Linked DNA regions of Homo sapiens: all the other regions are reported to be linked to region 1. Evidence: microRNA targets listed by miRTarBase, many of them from high-throughput screens and not tested one by one. Region 1 holds a microRNA gene; each other region holds the end of a gene's coding sequence.
Evidence for each region. The annotated mature microRNA hsa-miR-578 reads CUUCUUGUGCUCUAGGAUUGU and lies in region 1 at 3,571-3,591, shown strand. An mRNA with a match to its seed (bases 2 to 7 or 8) in the 3' UTR can be bound and repressed. Matches are read on the target gene's strand: a 7mer-m8 pairs with bases 2 to 8, a 7mer-A1 pairs with bases 2 to 7 and ends in A, and an 8mer does both.

Region 1 (5,108 bases):
AATTAGCTCTCTTCCTGAGCAGAAAGAAGTGATCTTTATACATGCTTGGTACAGGACATGGGGTGTAGTTGAGGTTATCTCCTGAAAATGACTTTCTTTGCAAGATGTTCAACTTTTGAATTCATCAAAAGGCAAAGCAAATTCCATTTTGAATTGGTCATTGAGGAATAGCCAAACCTATTCTGTGATGACATCTTAGGAATCAGCTTGATTGTTGACCAGCTGAATGTTGGGTCTCAGTCATCATTTTGTATCACTTCTGAGGTCTGCAAAAATCTATTGAAAGAGAGTTGCGAGTAGCAGCCAATTTCAATAAGCAGAATCACAAATGGTCCTGTCATTGGTCTCATCTTTTCAGACATTGTTAAGTCTGGACCCCAGATGGGTTTCCTCTACACTGGGAGTTAGTGTTTGTGGCCCATTTGGAACTGGGATGAAGAATGGGCTTAGACTAGGCTAGGGGCTGATTCTAAGTGCTCAAATATGTCCCCATTAGATATCATACCTGCTAGGCATGATCATTTTTCCCGTTTTTCTTTCCTTTTACTTAGATTTTATACTTTTTTCTTATTTCCATGCTTAAGGACTCACGTATTCAAACCCAAACATATGCCTTCCTAGGCATGTATATCCATCATCGAAATACAGTACTCATAAAAGAAACCTTTATTAACTTATGTCTAAGTAATGGATTCTGTGTTCCCAGACCACTCGACCCGGAGTTAAATATGAGTTAAGATTAATTTGCTTAAAACACTATTTCTTTTACACGTAGTTCAAGATAGCTTTTGGGAAGTAAATCTGATTTATAGCTAAAACGCTATCTCAAAAACATTCTTTAGAGCAGGATTTTTCTTTCTCAAAGGCTGGAATGATTATTTTGGACGTATTCCTCTCTGAATCTGTTAAAATATAAAGTGTATAAATGCCAGTATGAATTTGCCAAATATTGTGATGGAACATTTAATGCTGGCAAAGTTTCCACACAACTTGAAAAAAATAAGTGGGGATTTTTATTATTTGTATGGCGTCTTTTTATAGCAGATTAGTATGTGTTAGTGGCAAATGGTTACAACTAAGTAACAACTTAAAATTCGTGAAGATAGATGTTAGATCCTAGAGAAGAATCTAGACCTACCACACATGGTCAAGAGTTATTTTTAGACCTGAATGAGTCAACACAGCTTTTGCCAGAAGTGATGTTCTTGATTGACTTGTAATTGGTTAATGGAAGAGAAGGCAAGTTGGGCTTGCCCCTACATGATAGCCTTTGCTCAGACAAAAGAGGCAGCTTTCTGTGACAACTGATTTCAGAGGTGGCAGACGACTCATTTGCTAGTAACTCCCTTACCGTCTTACCACGGGGCGAAATCCTATTTCTAAATATTATTAAGAAATACAAAATAGCTCTTGTAACGGGTGACACATTAACCCAGCTTTTCTCAAAATATATTCCATAGAACATATATTCAGCATGGTTTGATAGGCATTATGTAAACAAAGATAAACAGGTTTGTATATTGAAAGACCTAACAGAGCTCTTAATAGGCTAATGTATGTTTCAAATCTCCAAGTTAGATTCGTACTGTATAAGATTTCCCAGGCTTTTACCATGGGATTTCCTCCTCTCCCGCTGGCTGGTGGCTCACACCTGGTTGAGGCAGGAGGAGTGCTTAAGGCTAGGAGTTTGAGATCTGCCTAGGCAACATCATGAGATCCTGTCTCTACAAAAAAATAAAATTAGCTGGGCATGGTAGCATTTGCCTGTAGTCCCAGCTACTTGGGGGGCTTAGGAGGGCGCTTGAGCCCAGGAATTTGAGGCTACAGTGAGCCATGATTGTACCACTGCACTCCAGCCTGGGCGACAGAGCGAGACCCTATCTCAGAAACAAAATAACAACAACAACAATAAAAAAGGGAGCTTATCTTGGAAGTAGTGTTACACTTCCATTAGCCCATTATCATTCTTTATCATAGTATTAAAGATTCATTTGTCACATGAGACTGGATGTAGAACAAAGAAAAAAATGATTCAGTTGGCAATTCTCCAGCAGAGGGCCTCATACAGGGAGCTCTTCAGGGGTAGGGAACATATGTTTTCCATTTTTTCCCTCCATAAACAGCTAGTGTAGTGGTTTATGTAGAGTAGGCTTTTAAGTTTTGCTTAGAATCAGAGCATGATTCTGAGGCAATGAGGCAGAGGAGAAATAATTTTGTTTGTTTGCTTTTTTCTCTCTCTTACAGAGCTGAAAAGGACACATAATTTTGATGAAAATGATTAAAGTTAGACAAATGCACCACAATTCTTCTTTTATTGTTAAATAGCTTCATGCTTTTTACTTTTGTTCACCTCTTTTCCTTGTGTATGACAAGGGAATACGTTAAGAACACAGAACTCACAGGATCGCTGTGAGGCCAAAGTAGTGTAGTATATAGAAACACATTTAATGAAGTTGCTTACATCTGGTTATTAAAAAGAAATGCTAATTTGTAAATATTCTTTTTTTACTTTCAGTTGGTCTGGAAACTGTGCTCCATGGCCTTTACACTCATTTAGAGTAGGCACTCTTGGCTGCATCGTCACGTGAGATCTGCCTCCACCAATCCTGCCAAATGCTTTCCTCTTAGGATGCTGTTGCACAGGCTTAGTTGATAGCCCTGAAGGACTTTTTCCCTCTTCTTACTGTTTTATTTTTGTTCACAAATGTTTGCTTTTTTTTTTTTTTTTTTGAGATGGGGTCTTGCTGTGTCACCCAGGCTGGAGTGAAGTGGCACGATCATGGCTCATTGCAGCCTTGAACTCTAGGGCTCAAGGTGTCTCCCTCCTCAGCCTCTTGAATAGCTGGACTACAGATGTGAGCCACCACACCCTGCCTGTTTGCCTTTTATCAATTTTAAAATGTGGGACATTCTTGCTTTTCTTCAGTTTGACATGATGATGAACAATAATCATCAAGCAAGCTTGAATCAAGCAAGCGTCACTCAATAGGACACTCAATAGGAACAAAGTGTGCATCAGTATTTGAGAATGTCTTTATGGTTGTTTCTTTAGGTAGCCAAATAAATCTACGGCAATATCAACATTTTCATTGGCAATCTGACTTATTTTCCTAAAGAATTTATGATGAAACTGCTCCAGTCCTGACTAACTTAGTCTTTTACAGTCTCAGCAGAAGCAAAAGCTCTTTGAAACCTCCTTTCTCCCCGCTCCCTAACTTTCTTACCCCTGCTGGGGCTCTTTCTTTATGCTTCCATATTTCTTTGGAGAGCTGTAAAGAATTACAGTGTGGACTTTGATGTCAGGGGACTTGAGCTCAAATCCTGAGGCTTCTTATTTTTAGCTGAGTGTCCCTGGGCAAGTCAATTAACTTCTCTCTATCTCCCAAATTCATCACCTATGAAATGACAATAATGTGATGATTAAATGAGGTGGTAAATATAAAGTTCTTAATTCAATATGTGGCAACAATTATTATTACCTCATTATGGTATTTCCCACTGTTGGTCTACAGATAAATCTATAGACAAAATACAATCCCGGACAACAAGAAGCTCCTATAGCTCCTGTAGCTTCTTGTGCTCTAGGATTGTATTTTGTTTATATATATTTTTTAATCCTGAATGTCTAGTATTATGCTTGGGACATAGTGGCCACTCAGTGAATATGTTTGAATAAATGAAATTTCTCAAATAGGCAAAAATGCATATCATAAAACAAAGCCATGTTGGTCGATGTTGACATCATGCATATTAGCATGCCAGTAGTGTGATAACAAGAAAGGATAGAGATGGTACTTTTCTTTTGCATATGCTTATTTTTTGTGTGCACTGAATCCAGTTTTGCATAATGGAGAAATATACCAATGTGAATTACATGTCTTTTCAAGTTTCAGTGCTGAACTTGCTGTGTTTGTTGTCTCATATAACTGGACTAGTAAGGGGCTGTCTTCCTTTTGGAAGAGAAGAGTCTTCAGACATCTTAGAAAGTTAAGCTGCTTTTTAAGTGTTAAATAAACATTTTAAAGATAATTGGTAAGCATTTATTTAGTAAAATTTTGACCTTTAAAAACTCTGCATGAGACCTGAGTGTTGAAAACTAAGAACTGTGTGCTTGTTTTTAACACAGAAGATATGTATCTCCAGGTTTTCATTTTCCTTTTTCTCATGAAATGGTATTCAAATCGTGCACTTTGAAATGCCACAGAGGAGGAGGTTTATCCGAGCTACGTGATGGGTCAAATGAACTTAAATTTGAAACATGTTTAAATTTGCCCTTTTGTTTCCTTCTCATTAATTACTGGAATTGCCGTGAGTCCGTTGCTCTGTGAACGTTTCTCTTTCTTTGAACATTCAGGATATGGTGTTTTGTAAGTGATCTAACAGCCAGCTTTTTCTAATAAAACATGGCCTAAGAGAAGAGCCTGTTTGTGTTACTAGTGTCTTTTATGATTTTCAAATGATTTACCCACTTCTTTAACTGTCCCTAGATGAGTAATCTTTGAAGGGTAGGGTGGCACATGTGGAGTATTAAAGAGATGGCTGTTAAGCAAAGATAAATGAATTACTTATGATAATACACCGTGGAACAACTTTCCACTACTGGTAAATATTTTGTTTTCTACAGAAATCTCTTTACTATCAAATCATTGCTAAACATCATAGTTCTATAATAATCCCCTCATTTGAAGACATTTCATTTCAAACAAAGGCTCATTATTTTAAAATGGATGCAAATTGTTTATTTTCTAAATAAGCCTAAATATAACTTAAATTCAGGTTGCTAAAAAACCTCTTCCTGGCCGGGCGTGGTGTCTCACACCTGTAATCCTAGCACTTTGGGAGGCCAAGGCGGGTGGATCACGAGGTCGGGAGTTCAAGACCAGCCTGACCAACATGGTGAAACCCCGTCTCTACTAAAAATACAAAAATTAGCCAGCCGTGGTGGCACATGCCTGTAATCCCAGCTACTCAGGAGGCTGAGGCAGGAGAATCGCTTGAACCTGGGAGGCGGAGGTTGTGGTGAGCGAGATCGCACCACTGCACTCCAGCCTGGGCGCAGAGTGAGACTCTGTTAAAACAAAAAGACCTCCATGTTGGTCAGGCTTGTC
Region 2 (5,108 bases), not on the chromosome of region 1:
GACTAAATGATCATGGCCCAGTGGTGCATAAGATGGGAAAGGGGTTCTCTGTGGTCAGGGTCCTAAAGCTCAGCTATTGAAGAGGCATTGGGTCTAAAGGTTAGTTTGCTTGGAACTTTTAATCGCTGTTGAGATAGTAAGTATTAATTGATGACGTTGGGAATTGTAAATAGATACTGACAATCTGGAGAAAATGGGAACGTGGAGTGCAGGGGACAGGCAAAGGTGGCTTAATGAAGAGCAAGGGGTTTTTAGATGACATGGTGGTAGTGTTATTAATAAACTCTTTTTCCTCTTTATGCAGCTGGTTCCTGGAGGAGAAGGACCTGAAGTGTGAATGAGTTTCCTTGACTTACACTAGATTTTGTTTTGGCTTATAATGACAAGAAAATGGAATTTTTTTTCCCACTTTCTAATGTTTAAATCCCATAAAGCTAAGTTTCCCGTTAAAGGGAAGTGCTTTGAAGATGTGTACCCATTTTTGTAAGTTAATCATGATTATCCTGGAAAAAGAAGAAAAGAGCTTCTTCTTTGCAGATGAAAATAAAGGTGTTTTTGGTTAACTGTCATTTTGTTTATTCTACTGCAGTAGCCAGTGGAACAAAGTTTGTAGTTATTTTGCCACTTACTTTTCTGTCATTATATGCTTATTTGTTTTGTCATTTACGTGACCATTTGATTCTCAAACAAAAGTTGTTCCAAACAAAATGATGAACTTTGATTTGAACAGGTGCATTTAAACAACCGGAAATGATCACTTAGAAAATTCAATTAAAATGCTGTTGTTTTGTAATGAGGATTTTTCTTCTGATTTCAAATTCCATGAACTCCTATTGAAAACAAACAATGTACAGGTAATATATGCACATTGTAGAAATGCAGGAATTATCTATTGGAATTACCCTAAAGATAGAAATTTTATCTATTTGCTTATAAAATTGATTCAGAAGGTTATTACCTTAATGTAGTTATTACTGAATTGCCAGGAAATGAGTGGAGACAGAGCTTTAAGATAAAGGATACTAAAAGCAGCTAAGAACTCCAGGACTCAGGTCAAATCAAGGAACTGATAATAAGATCATTGAACTGTATAAATTAAGTCAAAGAACTCCTATTAAAAACAAACAGGTAATATATGCACATCGTAGAATTGTAGGTAAGCAAAAAGGAGAAGGTTGATCATGCTTTGCTGTATGTCTTCGTAGACTTTCTCAGTCCACTCTCAGTACACGTTTTATTTTACTTGCTCATCCTGATTATACTGTTTTTACCCTCCACTTAAGTCATTTTTTGAATTTAAATGGTGAATATCTTTCTGTGTCAAATATTTCAACATTAATATGTACATAGTATTAAATGGATTTACTATAAATTATTTAGCCTATTCTTACTGGCCACAGTAGTCTAACTAGATCTTTATACATTTGTATTTTTCTAGAATAAACTCAAAAATGTGTAAGATCAAAGGGTATATATTGTGTTGCCAAGAAAAAGTTTGTGCCAATGTATATTTTTGCCAGGAGTCTTTCATAGTACCATTTATATCCTTCCCAGCATTAGCTGTGTTCTACCTTCTCTCCTCTTTGCCATTTTTACAAGAAAACCGGGCATGTCTAAAGTTTTCTTTTCCTTTTTTTTTTTTTTTTTTTTTTTTTGGAGAGTCTCACTGGAATGCAGTGGCATGATCTTGGCTCCCTGCAACCTCCAGTCAGGCTGGTGTGCCTTGTCGCGATATCAACGCGACCTCCGCCTCCCAGGTTCAAGTGATTGTCCTGCCTCACCCTCCTGAGTAGCTGGGATTACAGGTGGGCGCCACCACTCCCATCTAATTTTTATATTTTTAGAGAGATGGGGTTTTACCTTGTTGGCCAGGCTGGTCTTGAACTCCTGACCTCTAGTGATCCACCTGCCTCAGCCTCCCAAAGTGCCGGTATTAAAGGCATGAGCCACCAGGCCTGGCCTAAAATTTTCTTGATTAATTTTGATCTCATTTGTATTTTGTAAATGACTTATCTGTTGAGGCTTTTGCCATTGAGATGTTTGTCTTTTTCTTACTAATTTGTAAGAATTCTTGATGGGTTTCTGTTAGTCATGTATTTTGCTAATAATTTCCCTAGTTTGTAGTTTGCCACTTAGTGCTATTTTTGACATAAATGATGTATTTTAATGTAGTTGCATGTTGACCTAGTCCATTATGGTTTTTGTATTTGGTCCACGTGGATTGGAAAACCTTTGCTTTGATTATACTTTTCTTTGGGCACTTTATGTTTTCTGCGTTTGATTTAAATCTGGAATCTATCTGGAATTTTGGTATTACCACATGGAAAAAGGATCCAACCTTATTTTCCAAAACACAAAGCACTGATTTGTAGTTTTCTCTGATTTACATGTTGTCAGTACTACTGCCTTGGCTAATTTCAAGCTACCAAGGCTTTAACAACTGGTTTGCAAAATTCTCAAGGATTTGACAGTTGATTCTCAGGAGCCAGTATGAGCTGGTTGCCTCACACTTTGCTTCTAACTCTTGGGGGCAATGCTTTCCCTCCACTGTTGTTTCTTTCCCTTTGGAGGGGAGTAAGTGATGTAACACCTGCTTCTTTCCACCCCTTTATTATTTGCTATCCCAGGGGAGCTAATAGTCATACCCAAGCTCTTCCTTTTTTCATCATAGGAGTTAGGCCAGGTGCAGTGGCTCATGTCTGTAATCCCAGTGCTACATTGTAGGTGGTCGAGGTGGAAGGATAGATTGAGGCCAGGAGTTGGAGACCAGCCTGGGTAATATAGTGAGACCCCATCTCTACCAAAAATTTTAAAAAATTAGTGAGGTGTGGTAGTGTGCATGCACCTGTAGTCCTACGTAGTTGGGAGGCTGAGGCAGGAGAATTGCTTGAGCCCAGGAGTTTGAGATTTCAGTAAGCTATGATTGCACCACTGTACTCCAGCCTGGGTGACAGTGAGACCCCGTCTCAAAACCTACAATGAAACGCCATTTCATGGGTGCTATAGAATGGCTATAATTATAAAAAATTATTGTAACAAGAATTGTACAAAAATTAATGTAACAAGTATTGGCTGGGATATGAAGAAATTGGAGCCCTAGTACCTTGCTGGTGCGAATGTAAAATGATGCATGCACTGTGGAAAATAATTTGATGATTCCTCAAAAAGTTAAACAATTACCATACGACCCTGCAACTCCTCTCCTCAGTTCATACCCAAGAGAACTAAAAACATGTCTGCACAAAAACTTGTATGAACATTCACGGCAGCATTATTCCTAATGTCTCAAAGTGGAAGCAACCCAAATGTCCATCGATGGATGGATGGATAACTGAAATGCGATATATTCATACAATAGAATATTATCTGTTAAAATGAATGAAGTACTTGTGTATGCTACAGTGTGGATGAACTGTAACATTATGCTAAGTGAAAGAAGCCAGACACAAAAGACCACATATTTGATTTATATGATCCAGAACAGGCAAATTCACAGAAATAGACAACTATACTAGTGACTGCTAATGGGTATGGGTTTGTTTTTTGGGGTGATGAAAAAGTTCTGGGATTAGATGGTTGCACAACCTTGTGAATATACTAAAAAGCACTGAATTATAACCTTAAAAGAGTGGATTTCATGTTACATGAATTACATCTCAATTTTTAAAAAGTGATGTATCTGAGGCATATCTAGTGTAACTTCTGAGGCCCTAAAGAAATTACTTTCCCATGAGTAACAGCTTGGGTTGTGGCTGCTGAAAGGACTTTAACCACCTAAGCATCAAACCCCCTTCTGGTTAAGACTGAACAGAATAAGGATTTGGGAAAGGTTGTTTTGGGCATTTAACTTAAGAATGTTGGACATTTTTTGTTTGTTTTGAGACAAGGTCTTGCTCTGTCACCCAGGCTAGAGTGCAGTGGTGTGATCAGTGCTCACTGCAGCTTCGAACCACTGGGATCAAGCGATTCTCCCCCCTTAGCCTCCCAAGTAGCTGGATCCACAGGCAGGTGCCACCATGCCCAGCTATCTTTTCTCTTTTTGTTTTTTTAAAGATAGGGTCTCGGTCTGTCACCCAGACTGGAGTGCAGTGGTCATGGCTCACTGTAGCCTCGACTTCTCGGGCTCAGGTGATCCTCCCACACTACAGGTGCACACCACCACACCTGGTTAATTTTTTGTGTTTTTGATAGAGACTGGGTCTTGTCATATTGCCCAGGCTGGTCTCAAACTCTGGGCTCAAGCGATCAACTCGCCTTGGCCTCCCAAAGTGCTGGGATTACAGTTGTGAGCCACCGTGCCTGGCCTAATTTTTTAATATTTTGTAGAGACAGGGTGTCACCATGTTGCCTAGGCTGGTTGATTCTTAACTTACAAAAATAAGGGTATTTAGTTTTGGATTTTAATTCTAGTGGAGTTTAACATTTTTGGACTTTGATTTGGAAGGAGGTTTAATTTTTGAATTCCAGTAAATTTGATAATGGCACAGGATTATATGTAGATTTGGGCATCTCTGTTGTTGGCATTTTATTATTGGGTGTTGGTGTGCTGATATGCCAGGTTAGACCATTTATTAGTTGGGGTTCTCCAGAGATGACCAATAGTATATGTATATAGATATATAAGGGGATTTATTAGGAGAATTGGTTCATGCGATTATGGAGGCTGGGAAGCCCCAAAACAGGCTGTCTGCAAGCTGGAGACCTTGATGTGGCTCAGTCCAAGTCCAAAGACCTCAGAGCTTGGGATGCTCATGATAAAATTCTCAGTCTGAGGCTGAAGGCCTGAGAACCCAGGGGGCTACTGGTGTAAGTCCTGGAGTCCAGAGGTCTCCTAAAGTTGGGATCACTCTTCCTTCTCTGTCCTCAGAGGACAACATCATCAGAACATCAGGAGTTCTTATATCCAAAGACAGAGAAGGAAGAGTTATCCCCGCTCTAGGAGGGAGACAGACATGTTGCCTTTTCTGTGTTGTTCTCTTTGGACCTTCTGTCAACTGAATGCTGGCCCACATTGAAGGTGTATCTCACCTAGTCCACTCAGACTCACACCCTAAAGTAGTCTGGAAACACCCTCATAAACACAGCCAAATAATGCTTTACTAGGTTTC
Region 3 (5,108 bases), not on the chromosome of region 1:
AGCCAAAGAAAATGGAAACAAAGTAAGCCACAACCCATTAGAGTTTTATCAGCCAGAGGTAAGGAATCACACAAATGCTGAAGAGTTCTGAGTTGTGTGCTATTACAGAAATCCCAGGAACTCAAACGACATTTTGGACACATTTTTGTCTCCACTAACTTTGCTTACAACCATTGACTTGGCCAAATGATACAGGCACACAGCGACACCATGGACTCCTTCTCCAGTTGCTGGGCCAAACTTTCCTTTTCAAGAAACCTTTTCAATTTGAAGACCGTGTAACATGGCAGAGCACACTCAGGAATTTGAGGTGACCTAGGTATATATTCCTGTGGTTTTGGGGACAAGTAGTGACTTATTTCATGGCTGTTCTCATGGACATCCAGCTGAGCAGGGCACACCCGTGGAGACTCCTTCTTACCTAGAATCAGTACTTTTGTATATTCTATGAGAACAAACACAATTCCAAACACATTTAGAGGTGCACAAAAGATATTACTTTAAATGCACTGGTTTATATTCAGTACATAGCTCATTAACACAGGAAAAGAAATATTTCTCTACACAAAGGCAATGGTGTGAAATATATTTCCCATGAAAAGTGGAATGATGAGGCTGTTCAGTGCTGCGCTCTTAGGCTGAGAGCTGTAAGGGAGTTTAGAGGGCTGTCCAGGCTGATCCTTTCATTTCACAGATGGACAAGTGGAGGCCTAGCCAGCCCCAGGGACTTGCCCAAGGTCACCATCCAACCCTGTGGCAGAGCAGGCTTGACCCTGGGGTTTGCAGACTTTTTGCTATGATTACAAGATGAACATAACACATTCTTCCATGTCCTTGTGAGACACTTGACAAGGGAGCAATGGCTATGGATAAAAACACTAGCCTGTGAAATTCTTTGATTTATGCTGCCATTAGAGCTTTGAGATTTTCCTGCTTCTTTGGCCCCAATTTTTCTCAGGATATACATTCAATGGGTATATTGTACACAAATCTGTGCCTTTGGTTTGATGAGGTTAGAGCTAAAACAAATTTAGAATTGGTTATATTTGTTAATATATCACACTTCCCTCAAAAAGTCATAGATTCTTTATACAGTTAACCTTTTACTGGACTGCTTTTAAATTTAGGGATTCAATGAGGTATCTTGATATTCATAAACTATTAATAAACATTAAATTTTTAGAAATCTCCTGCATAAAGTATGAATTTTCGTCGTATTTAGTCAACAGAGACTGACTGAATGAAAGCATAGTTGAAAATAAGACCACCACTATTAACTGAAACGTCACACTACTAGGACCGCACAGCCCGCAGCTTGTGTCTGCCTTGGCGCAGGAGGGCAGCCCCTCTTTTCAGGCCCCTGGGTAGAGGGGAGGTGGGCAGTGGCTGCCGGGGTCACTCCGGTACAAACTCATACAAACTCACGTGCGCCAAACATCCGAGACAGAAGCCTGTGCCTCCATCGGGGGAAAGCGCCTTTGGGGGAGGGAGCTAGGCATTTAGAAGCTTAGTTAATTATTTGCTAAAAAAATCCATTTTTTTCTTCTCACATGTATTTGTAGCTTTCATTTCAAAGATTTTCCCCTATATTTGCTCTTATTAAACAGGTTCTAAAATGGGCTTTTTCAGGGTCTTTATATCTCAAAAACAATTAGAACACAAAAAGTGAAGCTTATTACCTAGTAACTCTTTCCTTGGCTACTCTCATTCTAATAGGTCTCCCCTTTTTATTTCAGATCAACTGTTATTTTCAGATAAAAATAAAATTTTCAAAAGAAGAGAATACTATTTGAGTGTTATCTCAAAAAAAAAGTCTCCTTTGTATATAATCAATAACACAAAATACAAAAAAAAATTTTTAAGTGATTAATAGGAATTTTTTCCCAATTAGAAAAGTTACAAATTATCCAGCAAAAAACCTTCTATGGGCCGGGAGTGGTGGCTCACGTCTGTAATCCCAGCACTTTGGGAGGCCGAGGCGGGCGGATCACCTGAGGTCAGGAGTTCAAGACCAGCCTGGCCAACATGGCAAAACCCCATCTCTATTAAAAATACAAAAACATTAGCCTGGCGTGTTGGCGGGTGTCTATAATCCCAGCTGCTTGGGAGGCTGAGGCAAAATAATCACCTGAACCCTGGAGTCAGAGGTTGTGGGGAGCCGAGATTGTGCCACTACACTCTAGTTGGGCGACAAGAGTGGGACTCCGTCTCAAAAAAAAAAAAAAAAAAAAAAAAAAACCTTCTATCATATCCTCTTTATTTCTTGCAGCAAAATATACTGTGACCATGTAAGTCGTTAACAAAGATACTATTTTTCTAAATAAATAAAATGGGTATAACTCACCAAAACGTAACAACAAAATAATTCCTAAGAACACTATGAAAAGCAAGATAAATAATTATCTCCTAAACGACAAAACAGGGGAATTGCATTTAGATTATCTAACAGGCTATAACCATTATTGCACAACCAATAAGCACTGAAACACCATATCAAGCTACATAAACTCATATAAAAGAATTAATTCTGATAACATTGCTGAATTCTTTCTGGAAGAATGCACCCACTAAAAATATCAGGTCCAATACGTTAAATATAAATGAGAAACTGGTATTAGATGGGAAATATCCTTTGCCACATCAGAAAACTTCGTCAGTATTTCTCTGGGGTTTGGAGAGAATTGGGAGTGATGTCATGTCATCTTGATCTGGGAAAAAAATGGGTCGGTTTCTTTTCCAATTTTTTAACTAAAACAGGGGATTAAAAAACGTTTAAATTTGAAAATACTTTTCTGTAGCATCTTCTACTTGTCTGTTTCCAAATAAAATGCAAATTTGGAACCCAACGCCAGCAGATAGTTCCTGTGCTCCTGCACAGCAGGCCCAGGAGAGGGGCCTGATCCTAAACAACATCACAGGTAAGACTGAGAAAAACAAAAACAAAAACAAAAAACAACAACAAAAAACAACAACAAAAAACACTGGGTTTTGTCATCAGGGCTTGAATACTGCCCACAGGTTCTCACGAGGACGAGGAAGTGGGAAGAGATATTCTAGGTAATTTTTTTTTATACAATTAACAAACTGTGATCAACCAACTACCTAGGTATTACAATTTTAATAACGTTTTCTCAGTGGTTTAGCTCCTTAGTAAACAGTCTGTACAGTTAATAAACAACTTTTTTTGTTAGAGAAGATCATGAAAATTTTGTCAAAGATTTGACCATACTCCTCTGTATTTTAATACCCTGGTGAACACTTAACATTTTTTTGGTTACATTTCTAATTTGATAGAAAGCATTTGTAGTCAACTGAATTTTAATGTAGCCAAGAGGAGAAAAGGAGTGGTTTCAAATCAAGCGTTGTCCACACTTTTAGAATGGGAAGGCATAGAACATGGTATCTCATGGGAAAGATCATGTTTACAGTAATGCATTCCAGATTAAAAAGTAAAAGGGGCAGAGAGAGTAGAGGCTGTTTCTCAGCATGTGAGGATCTAGTGACTGTCACCACATTATTTGAGAAAACTGCTACCACTACCACAGGCCAGGATCTTTCCATTTTTGTCTCTCACCTTCTCCCAGAACCAGTCATGCTGAATGACCATCACTGATCCTACGGAACTTTGACAAACGATGAAACTAGTGGAGGCTTTCAATGTAGACATCCTCAGCAGAGGAGTGTAGCCCTCGTACTGCTGCTACAAGTCACACGCTGAGTCACATTGCTGTCTGCAGAGTGATGTGAACCTGTGTATACGTGCAGTTTCTTCTTTACCCTTCGTCCCTTCCCCAACATCCTCAGTGAGCAAATCGCATTTCTACCTGGTGAGAACACCCCTGTAAAGAGCCTACTTTGTTGGTCCAACACAGTGTGTCTGCCCAAATGCCCTTTATTAATTAAGTCACCTTTTGGGGAGTAACATAATCAGTGTAAATCAAATGCTGTCCCCATCCCATTCCCCAAGAACCTGCATCTTGAGAATTTTTGGCTGTGTTTTGTAAAAGCTTTTTGCTTTTACGCTAGTGGTGATGTTGGAGGAGAATACAGGATAATGCATCCTCCCTATGTCTAAAAGAATAGCAGGCTCTAAGGCAGACTGTCTTCATTCTGAAGGGCCCAGTAGAGCATTACCACAGCCAAGCTGTTTCCTGAAAGAACAGCAGGTGCCTAGCACTCTTTGCTTCCAAATGCCACTGAAATGAAAGAAGAAAAGAAGAACAGACAATAAAAGGTAATAAAACCCAACCAAATAAATGACGACCACAGGTCAGCGCCCTCTCCTGGGCCTGCCGGGCTTTTCCAGTTTTGCTGTTGGCTTCTGGTCCTCCCAGGCATCGGACCCCTAGAGGGCTCCTCTGGCATCTCCGAAGACCTCTTCCAAAGGCTCTCTGCATCTCTCTCCTCCCCACACCAGTCTCTTCATTTGAGGCGCTGAGTCACGTTGGCCAGGGCAACTGCAAAGGCCTGCACGGCTGAGAACGGATACTGGAAGTCTAGAATGTACGCACTGCCATCAATCCGTCCAAACTGCATCACCTGGAGGAGGGCAGGGGAAGCAAAGACATTAAAGAATAAGGTGAAAAGGCCAGGCGCAGTGGCTCACGCCTGTAGTCCCAGCACTTTGGGAGGCCGAGGTGGGCAGATCACGACGTCAGGAGATAGAGACCACCCTGGCTAACACGGTGAAACCCCGTCTCTATTAAAAATACAAAAAATTAGCCGGGCGTGGTGGCGGGCGCCTGTAGTCCCAGCTACTCGGGAGGCTGAGGCAGGAGAATGGTGTAAACCTGGGAGGTGGAGCTTGCAGTGAGCTGAGATTGGGCCACTGCACTCCAGCCTGGGCGACAGAGGAGACTTCATCTCAAAAAAAAAAAAAAAAAAAAAAAAAAAAGAACAAGGCGAGCAAGGCGACAGCCGGGTCTGCATGGCTCCTTATGGAAGCAGACAGCACCGTCTATGAGATACTTTTGCTAACAAAAGTGACCCTGAATCTGGTGAAGCTTCTATATCTAACTCCAAGTTTGCAGGAAATAAGGGGACTGAGGAACATGTTAACACAATGGAGACAGTGAGCAAGGTTTGGAATGTGGGGACAATGGCCTCCA
Region 4 (5,108 bases), not on the chromosome of region 1:
TACAGGCGCCCACAACTGCGCCCAGCTAATTTTTGTATTTTTAGTAGAGATGGGGTTTCACCATGTTGGCCAGGCTGGTCTCAAACTCCTGACCTCATGATCCACACGTCCCAGCCTCCCAAAGTGCTGGGATTACAGGCTTGAGGCACCGGGCCCGGTCTGGAGCTGTTCTTTTAACCACTTGATGTTAAAATATTCATTTGAGGATCAGAGGTCTGTGTGCCACACCTACTTGGGGACTATATCCTGGGTGGGGATAGCAGGTCTGGGAAGACTCAGACAGAATGGCTTCATGGTGCACCTGGGGAGGCTGCACCCAGACATCGGCCCTGGAGCTCCTGGGAGTGTATAGGAAGCACGACCGGGGATAGGAGTAGGTAATTTTTGAGGCTGAAATACACAGAAGTTCATGAGTTTGTTTTGTTTACTTTAGCTTCTGTTTTAAATGGTCTGTGATCAAAAGATTTTTACAAATCGACTCGAGTATGCATAGCTTTCCTAATATGACTGTATTAACGTCCTCTTCTTGTAGTGCTGTGCTGTGGCTTTCATTGAGAAGCTAGACGCCCAGTCTTTGAATCTAAGTCAGGAGGATTTTGATCGCTACATGTCTGGCCAGACCTCTCCCAGGAAGCAAGAAGCTGAGAGTTGGTCTCCTGATGCTTGCTTAGGCGTCAAGCAAATGTATAAGAACTTGGATCTCTTGTCTCAGTTGAATGAACGACAAGAAAGGATCATGAATGAAGCCAAGAAACTGGAAAAAGACCTCATAGATTGGACAGATGGAATTGCAAGAGAAGTTCAAGACATCGTTGAGAAATACCCACTGGAAATTAAGCCTCCGAATCAACCGTTAGCAGCTATTGACTCTGAAAACGTTGAAAATGATAAACTTCCTCCACCACTGCAACCTCAAGTTTATGCAGGATGATCACAATTTAGTGGAGAGTATTTATTTGAGCCTAAATTGTAGGTAGCCCTTACTACACTCAACTGATTGGGATCTAGAATGTAACTAAATTGCTTATAAATGTCAGCATTTTTTAAAGGTACAGTATATGGGGATTGTTTCGTTTTTCCTAGCAGGGGAACCTTAGTTAATAATAAAATACTACTTATTTGAGTTACTGATACAGATTCATTTAAGGCTTGTGTGCAAATTTTGTCTCAATCTTTTTTCCCTCCATGATTTTCCTATGTGCTTCCTCTGGCATTCACTGTGGTTTTGGTAAATAATTGCCTTTTAAAGGATTAAACAAATGAATGCTACAAAGTGTATGTTCAAGAAAATTAAATGGTACCACTCTTCCACAGTTTGGAATAATTTTATAATTGTAAAGATAGAAATTATATTGATAAGTAAATATGTAAAATTGTAAATATGTAAAAAAAAGAATGGTGTCTGCTGTGCATGGCATTTTATATGTTAATTTTTTAGTTTAAAATGAAGTATATTGAATGTTTGCCTTTAGCACCATTTTATTTGGTTTGTCCCACTAAAATGACTCGAGAAGTGTTTAGACAAACTCCCCTTAAGATGTGCACTCCATCTTTAAGAACGTGTTAGCCTTAACTTTGAGGTTCTATATAGTCAGAGACTATGACACCACTAAGGTTCAGAATAAAGTTTAGGCCACATAAAATTGCTGTTTAATGTAGTCGATGGAAGACTTTAAACTATGCTTCTAGCTTATTTTTCCCTCATTCATTCAGCAAATCTCTATTGAGTTCTTCAGTGAGAAGGAGCAGGCACTGGGCCTGGAATGGAAGGCGGGAATGAATGGGCCTCTGATGGTGAGAGGTGACGGGGTCCCTCAGCTGTGAGATGCAAGGGGCGCCTTGCAGCCTCCATAATATACATTTGACTTTGCAAACGTCTAGACATGTTTTCTGAACCTTTTTCAGGACATTTCAACCTCGGGACTATTCATATTAGTGGCCTGAGAGGTGTTTGTTGTGGGGCCACCCTGTGCATGGTAGAATGTTCAGCAGCATTCCTGCCATCCATATCCATTAGGTGCCAGTAGCACCCCCGCTAGAGCTGTGAAAAATTCTCTCCAGACATAGTCAGATGTCTCCTGGGGCCATATCACCCCTCCGTTAAGAACCACTGATGTCTTTTACAAACCAGGAGTTATCCTCCTGGTGGTTAATATGGTGTAACCAAAGAATCTTGCACTCAATGCACAGTGTGATGTTAACTAAAACGAGTTAAATATTTAGGAGGCTTGACAGCTACCTGCATTGTAGAACCTTTTCTTATCTCAGTGGAACCTTCTATAACCTAAATATACCATTGATGATTCTTCTTCCATTCAGTGACATCCACAGATTATGCAGCTATACTTGTGAAATCGTGCATGAGGCCCCAGGGCACCGTTCTAGAACAACGTCACTTCACACAGGCAGCTGAGAAAGGTTCTCTTGCTTTTCCAGTATCTTCCTAAGGATGGAGCCCAAAATTGCAGAGCAGTAACTTTGGAATAAAACCAGGGTGGGTATAAAACTTCTTATTCTTAAATTTACATATAAGATCTATTAAGCTTGACACATCTGTGTCATCACGCACTGAAGACAGGAAGCAGTTCACTGAGTCAGCTGGTTCCCAAGCTCGCACAGAAGGTGATAAGTTACTATCAAATGCCAGTGAGAATCTTCTTATAGAATAACCTGGGCCCAAGTGATTTTAGTACAAAACTTGCCCTTCTTTGGTTTAATTTTCTATGTGCTTTTAGGTGTGAATCCAGATATGCGGTCTTAATTCCTTTGGAAATACACAGTTCGTTTAGTTACTGTACACTCTGTTTGTTCAATAAACTGCATATCAACTTCCCACAAAAGCTGACTTTTTTGGGTCTCTTACATATAAAGTAGGTTATTGAGTTGATTTTTTTGGAGGTATCTCATATTGGTCGAATTCTTCTGGTATGGACTCTTGCCTTATATAGAGGCTTCTATTTCTCTTAAGTCAGCATCAATACAACGGCCGGAGTTTCTGTTTTTGCAATAAGAAGATGTTGGTATTTTATGTAGGGTAAATGTGACTGGAATACACCTTTGGAACGGAATTCTTTATCAATAAAGTTTCACAATCCGTCCCTCTTCCAAAAATTGATTTGGTTCTTTCTTAGGAAAATATACATTATTATTAATATTCTCATGCTACAGAGGTTTTCTGGTTAAGCTATACCTAAAAATGAAACATTAGAGACATTTGTCAGTTAAAATTAAGAAGACAAGAATATTTGCTGTCACCACAATCAATCAACCTTGTTCTTGCAGTTCTACCAAGGTACTCAGTCTTCAAACAGACATAAAAGTAGAGAAAAAAGGAGTTAATGTAATCAATATAGAGCTATTATTGTCTGTTGGTGAGGACATGAACTCTGAAGCTGGAAGGCTTGGATTTGGTTTTGAATTTTATTCTGCTACTTATTAGCTCATTGGCCCTGAACAAATCTCTTGTTTCAGATCCCTCAGCTGTGAAATGGGGTTAATAATATTACTGCTTCATGGGGTTGTTGTCTGAACTTAGAACAAATGATAGCTATTATTTGTAGATGGTTATTTTATGTAGAAAACCCAAGAGAAGGCTGGGTGTTGTGGCTCACGCCTGTAATCGCTTTTGGAGGCAAGGCAGGAGGAATGCTTGAGGCCAGGAGTTTGAGAGCAATGTCAGCAACATAGTGAGACCCACATCTCTACAAAAAAAAAAAACACTAGCTGGGCATGGTGGTGTGTACCTGTAGTCCCAGCTACTGGGGAGGCTAAGGTGGGAAGATCACCTAAGCCCAGGAATTTGAGGTGGCAGTGAGCTGTGATCTCACCATTGCATGCTAGCCTGAGTGAGACCCTGTCTTGAAAAACAGAAATGTAAAAAAAGAAAACCCAAGAGAATTTATATTGAAACTATAGAATTTCATCTCTATATTAGTGAAAGATGAAAATTCTAAAATAGCGATAAAAGCTAACTGTACAAAATGATTTTCCTATATACCATTACTAACCACTTAGCAAACATTGTGGAGAAAAAAATCAATTTACAATAGAAACAAATATAAATCACCTACAGAGAACAAGAGCTTTCAGGATCGATACGAAAAACAGAAAATTGAGTGAGAAGCACAAAGGTGTGACTGCAAAGGGCCCTGTGCTTGGACTTTAGGGCTCTGTAGCTGCCATCGTGAAATTCTTCTTTTTTGTTTTTGTTTTTCTTTGGGCTGGGGGGTATAGGGTCTGGCTCCGTAACCCAGGCTGTGGAGTGCAGTGGTGTGAACATGACTTACTGCAGCCTGGACCTCCTGGGCTCAAGCTAGCCTCTCGTCTCAGCCACCTGAGTAGCTGGGACTACATGTGTGTGCCACTGTACCCAGCTAATATTTAAATTTTTTATGGAGACGAATCTCACTATGTTGTCCTGGCTGATCTTTTTTTTTTTTTTTTTTGAGATGGAGCCTTGCTCTGTCACTCAGGCTGGAGTGCAGTCGTGTGATCTTGGCTCACTGCAATCTCCACCTTCTGGGTTCAAGTGATTTTCCTGTCTCAGCCTCCCAAGTAGCTGGGACTACAGGTGCGTGCCACCATGCCCAGCTAATTTTTTGTATTTTTAGTAGAGATGGGGTTTCACTGTGTTAGCCAGGATGGTCTTGATCTCCTGACCTCGTGATCCACCTGCCTCGGCCTCCTGAAGCGCTGGGAATACAGGCGTGAGCCACCGCGCCCAGCTGTCCAGGCTTGTTTTAAACTCTTGGGCTCAAGCAATTCTCCCACCTTGGCTTCCTAATGTGCTGGGATTACCAGCATGAGCCTCCGTGCCCCACCCCACCGAAAAAAGAAATTTATACTTAAGTTTTTGCCCACAGGTTCCTCAGTGTGTTAAAAAGGTTGAATGGGGAACCTGAAACTCCTCCCCCTGCTTTTGGAAGTGTAGGGCACTTCCCTTTCTCCACAGTGTCAGTAGAGGATGGGTGGAGACTGAACTTCCAGCCCTGCCAGGTGAGAATGAAGTGTTTGTTCCTGTCCTCTCCACCCTCTTCTGTGGTGTTGGTGGGGGCTGAGGGGGGAGCCTGGATTTCTACCTCCACCCATGATAATGAGGTCACAACTCA
Region 5 (5,108 bases), not on the chromosome of region 1:
AATCCCAGACATATTTGCAACAATTTTTGAAGGATATAGCACAATTCTTGACATGCCTACTTCCAAGGGGGAAATGACTCGTCCTCTATGAAGGCAGAGGAACAAAATAATCATCTCATTTAACTCTTTCAACTTCCCCTTGTGAGAACCAAGAAAAAGCTGACTAGGCTTGGAATTATATACAGTACGATTTTTTTGAACTAATAAGGCTTTAGAGAAGCTGCAGGGCTAGATTAGAACCCTAGAATATAATTGGTTTGAGACCATTCCCAATCTCCCAACTTTGTTCAGCTCCACCCTGTCTTTCCAAAAGAATTATAACTTGTAAATTTGGAACTGATTGAGAAAGATCTCTTAGAGTCTTGGATCCTGGATAAGAACTGGATATTGTTATGAGGGGTCTTTAGATTCCTAAAGGTCCTGCAGAAGAAATTGGCCAATTTGTAACTTCAAGGGTATAGCACTAGATGTCTTAAACTAAAAATGTGTCGCTTGCCTGTTTCAGTTATGCCTTTCTCTTTGAGCATTACCCAAGTAACTACCCCAAAGGGAACTCTCCTCCATTTTAAAATCTGGACCAATTGACAATATTGACACTATCTCATTTAACCTATAATGTAAGTCCTAGTCACTCCCATCTGATTCCAAAACCCTCTTATCCTAGATTCCAGCACCATTCACCCATCATGACAAGGCTGGCTCATCAGACCCTTTTAGGGAACTAGAACAAAAAGCCTATATTTTCTCCCATTTAAAGAAATTCATCTGTCTTATTGGATCTTGGTACATATGATTTATAAGTATTCAACACTGTTAGCAAACAAACTACAGAATCAAAGCATTACATTGGAAGCACTGTTCCTTAACATAAAGGATCTCTGGAACATATACTTCAATTTGAAAAAGAATTTTTTTAATGTGGTAGGATGGGAAACCAAACATAAAGGCTATGAACTTAACAACATCTCATTGTCTGTGTCAGGCCAATCTAAGATTACCAAGACTGCCTAGCTATCTAATTTTCTCATAAAACAATTCTGAGGTATGTCTTCTTCAGGACTAAATATTGTTAAATGTTTTATTAAGAAAGATGCGCTTGTTTATTACTTCCTTTATTTAAATGTTTTCTATGTACTATTTCATATATCCTAAGTTGTGCATGAAATACTTTGTATTTTTTTAACTGGACAAAAAGTACTATGGAAATCCAGTCAATTTAGTTTTGGCATGTGGTGGGGAAGATGTACCTCATAAGGAAACCTTTTCACAACATATTATTTACTTTCAAAATAATTATTTTCAAAAGAAACATGTCATCTTTGTAGATTGCAATAATGGGAAATGTGTGATGATGGCTTTTTGTTAAGGTGATCTAAATTGGGTAGTGAGATGGAAAGTTTTTTAAAGCTTTATTTTGTTCCTTTTGTACTGTCTATGTTAAGAAGGAGTAAGGCAACAAAAGCACCATTACAAGGATGGGAAGAATGCTTTATGGAACAAGTGAGTTATGGAACTTAGAAATCTAAGTTTGAAAGCAAAGAAATTCTAATTTAAAGAAGAAACTTGCTTCAACTGGAGGTTGAACTATGTTAAAGTAGTCCACATAAGGAAGTTTTCTGCTTTTGTTTTGTTTTTAATGAGAGTGATGCTTGTTAGCTCCAACATAAACATTCACATGATGATAATTTCCTGACAAAAATATACAGCTAAGCTAAAAATCCTTCTGCATATTTCCTACTTGGACTTTCACACAAACCATGTAAATACTTCACATATTTTATTTAGACACATAAACAGATTACTTTGCATGTCATTGCGCAGTCTCCATTTTATGTGACAAATCTAAAGTGAAAACATACTGGAATAGAAATTAGATAAATAGGCACTCCTCACCTGACAACTTTGAAGTTTTCAGAGATAAGCAGTGTGAAACTTATGAGAGGGAAATATATCACTACTACCTCTATTGATCTTAATCACAAATTGGAAAAGAAATACATATATTTAAATAGTCATTTAAATATATAGAACAGCTCTTTATATCATCACATTTTGTATTACAATTTAAAAAATTGTTAAGTATGATAAGGACGTTGTTATGACCCCAATTCACTATCCATGGATCAAGTGAGCCAATAAAGTGCTGGCTTCTTACTTTTTAAAATCTTTGTGGATATATAATAGGTGTATATATTTATGAGATACATGAGATATTTTGATACAGGCATGCAATGTGAAATAATCACATCATGGAGAATTGGGTATCCATCCACTCAAGTATTTATTTGTGTTACAAACAATCCAATTATACTCTTAGTTATTTGTACAATTAAGCTATTATTGACTATACTCACCCGGTTGTGCTATCAAATACTAGGTCTTATTTATACTTTCTAACTACATAGTTTTTGTACACATTAAGCATCCCCAGTTCCCCTCGCACACCCCTTTTCCCAGCCACTAGTAACCATCCTTCTACTCTCTATATCCATGAGTTCAATTGTTTTGACTTTTAGATCCCGCAAATAATTGAGAACATGCAATGTTTGTCTGTTTCTGGCTTATGTCACTTAATATAGTGACCTCTAGTTCCATCCATGACTCCTTAACTGCCCCTGAATTTTTGACACTATTATTTTTAAGTATTTTGGAAAACTCACACCTGTTCTCATTTTTAAACCTTAATAATAACAATTTCCTACTAAGCTAATAAAACTTCCCCTTATATTATTTGTAATGTGTGCATAACATAGTACACTTTTGTTACAGTTACATATATGAATAGTTAGCAGAGGAGAAACTCCTCCGTTGTTCCTACACCAAGGGAAAAAATGTAAGGACTGTATAGCTCATGAATAATATTAACATTTTTCTATCACAAAATATTGATAAAATTGGAATTGTATCAATTCATGTTATGGAGCTTAACATTTTAGCCGAAATATTAAGATAATATAAATAAGGCTTTTAGCTTCATATCAAGACCTATTTGAACACTTCTAGAAAAGAACATTAAAAGTTTTTTCCTCATTTATGGTTTGATTTAGTGTAGTGCCTCAACTGTTCTTAATGGTGTCTTAGTATAATGCATAATTATTAGAATATAATTATAAGGCATTACAGAATTTTATGTGGATACTTGCAAAGATATTTCAGTCCAAAACTTCAAATTACACACCCAAATATGTTTGTTGCCTTAATCTATACTTGGACAAAGGCAACATTTTAATTTTTGCTAAGTCTTAACTTTAGCCAGATGGGTTGAAATGTAAAATTTTCATCCTCATCTTGCATTGAAAAAATACTTGTGTTCAGTTATGTTCACTTTGTAAGGTCATTAAAGCCTAATTGCTAAATCAACTTCTAAGTATACTAAATACTCTGCTACAAAATATTTCTCCCAAGTAGGATAAATCTATCAAGTATTTGTTGCTGCTATTTTTATTCCCTAAGTCTTTATATCTATGTAATATTTCAATGATATGTTTGCATACCACTATGAAAAAACTTACCTTCCTTACACCTACTACTACCACATTGTGTTATATGTTTTTTAAGAAGTAGGTAGGCTCATTTGGGGAAGGTATGCTTTGAAAGAACAGATTTGCCAAGGGACTAATATGTACTTAGAACCAGAATAGCATACTGTATAATTTAGTGGACTTAGTTATTTCAAAAGATATTATTCCACTTCCCTGCTAAATGAAATTAATCATCACCTTTGACTTTCAAGAGGTGAAAATAGCGTGTAATAAAGCATATCTTTTAGTCATCAGGCCTACTGTGAAAAGCAAATACAGACTGTATATATTATATACTAGCTGTTATTTTTTGCTTCAATTGTATTTTATCTCTTTTGTTAAAAAAACATGATTTCATCTTGTAACTGAACTGCACATATAATATCAGAGAAAATCTTCTAATGGCATGACTTGTAAAATCTCTACCCCAACAAATTAGTTTGATATCTAGGAGTTACCTTATCTGAAACATAATGAGTTATGTTCTACAGTGTCTGCAATCAAACTTTAAACAATCAGGTCCCTCTTTCAGTTAGTATGTTGTTATACTGAATACATGAGTGTTATGGAAAAGATTTAGGTCTCATAAATGGGTGAAGAAATTGTCATCTACAGAACTAATTCATTCCATTAGATTTCTTGGGTAGCAGCATGGTTCCAAATTCTGATTGGCCTTTAGTGATGGAAAAATAACAAAGTACTAATGCAGAGACACACACACAAAAAAAAAACGGCTTTGAGTTGTAATACTTTAAAGTGGATCCATTCATGGCTAGAAAAGAAAAAAAAAGGTTATCTTACAACTGGTTCATAATTAAAGTCATTGTTACTATATGCAAAGTTATGGAAAATTATTTAAATTGGTATGTATAAAACCAAAGGACATGTATTGCACTTTTGTGGCACTCTTTTATATATATATATTCAATGAAACAATGATTTGTCTTTCTTACTTTACTCATGGTATGTTTCAAATGACTTTAAGCAAGAGTGAAGGACAATTAAGTAGATTTCCTTCTTAGTAATATTTAGAGTTTAAATATGTCCAATTGTCTCTTAATAAATATGGATTTTCATCTGTGAATGCATTTAAATATATTCTGACCTTGCTATCAGTATCTATAGATTCTTCAAATATCAATTTTGATTTTTACTGCTGCACATTTTTAATGGAGAGAGAAGTAGTGGCTACTATTCTGTAGAAACTTTATTTGGCAGGTCTTCATATTGCCACCTCTGGGATACATGTGGTTAGGGTTAGTGGCAGCAATTGCTTCTCAGTCTTAACTTTGGGCATCAAATTATCTTTGAGTGGCCAATTTTAAATTCTATGGGTTAATAATTAGTAGTAAGTAATTTTCAGCTAACTAATGACCTAACAAAAACAACATTTCAGAGTTTAAATGCAGTTATTTTTACTTTGGGATTACTAAACATTGGTTGTTTTCATTGATGATAACAACCATACTTAAAAGATTGATGGCTGGATTGTAGTTAAAGAAGGGCTTCAGCTCTAAAGAAACTTTTTGAATTTTTTTGTTGACTCAAATATTTGAGCTTGTTCAACCAAAAGATGTTTCTAGAAGT

Region 2: miRTarBase lists LSM5 as a target of hsa-miR-578. Seed matches in the 3' UTR shown: 8mer at 383-390, 7mer-A1 at 1,485-1,491 and 8mer at 1,595-1,602.
Region 3: the mRNA of TULP4 is a reported target of hsa-miR-578. Seed matches in the 3' UTR shown: 7mer-A1 at 2,260-2,266.
Region 4: miRTarBase lists RABGEF1 as a target of hsa-miR-578. Seed matches in the 3' UTR shown: 7mer-A1 at 1,283-1,289.
Region 5: the mRNA of POF1B is a reported target of hsa-miR-578. Seed matches in the 3' UTR shown: 7mer-A1 at 4,157-4,163.

Annotation. Positions count from the first base shown.
Region 1 is chr4:165,382,732-165,387,839 of GRCh38, forward strand. It overlaps MIR578 (microRNA 578), which reads left to right and starts at 3,511; the gene lies at 3,511-3,606. All of the region lies in intron 1 of CPE (carboxypeptidase E), which reads left to right.
Region 2 is chr7:32,482,490-32,487,597 of GRCh38, reverse strand. LSM5 (LSM5 homolog, U6 small nuclear RNA and mRNA degradation associated) reads left to right here. Exons shown (of 5, transcript NM_012322.3): 5 at 305-2,260. The coding sequence ends at 337. Among named protein-coding and RNA genes, the nearest start is that of LSM5, 5.3 kb to the left of the region's middle.
Region 3 is chr6:158,506,009-158,511,116 of GRCh38, reverse strand. It overlaps TULP4 (TUB like protein 4), which reads right to left. Exons shown (of 14, transcript NM_020245.5): 14 at 1-4,539. The coding sequence ends at 4,423. Among named protein-coding and RNA genes, the nearest start is that of TMEM181, 52 kb to the left of the region's middle. RefSeq lists an enhancer at 4,132-4,632.
Region 4 is chr7:66,808,354-66,813,461 of GRCh38, forward strand. It overlaps RABGEF1 (RAB guanine nucleotide exchange factor 1), which reads left to right. Exons shown (of 9, transcript NM_014504.3): 9 at 533-3,111. The coding sequence ends at 931. It also overlaps the pseudogene GTF2IRD1P1. Among named protein-coding and RNA genes, the nearest start is that of RABGEF1, 70 kb to the left of the region's middle.
Region 5 is chrX:85,275,134-85,280,241 of GRCh38, forward strand. POF1B (POF1B actin binding protein) reads right to left here. Exons shown (of 17, transcript NM_024921.4): 17 at 2,263-4,293. The coding sequence ends at 4,288. Among named protein-coding and RNA genes, the nearest start is that of ZNF711, 34 kb to the left of the region's middle.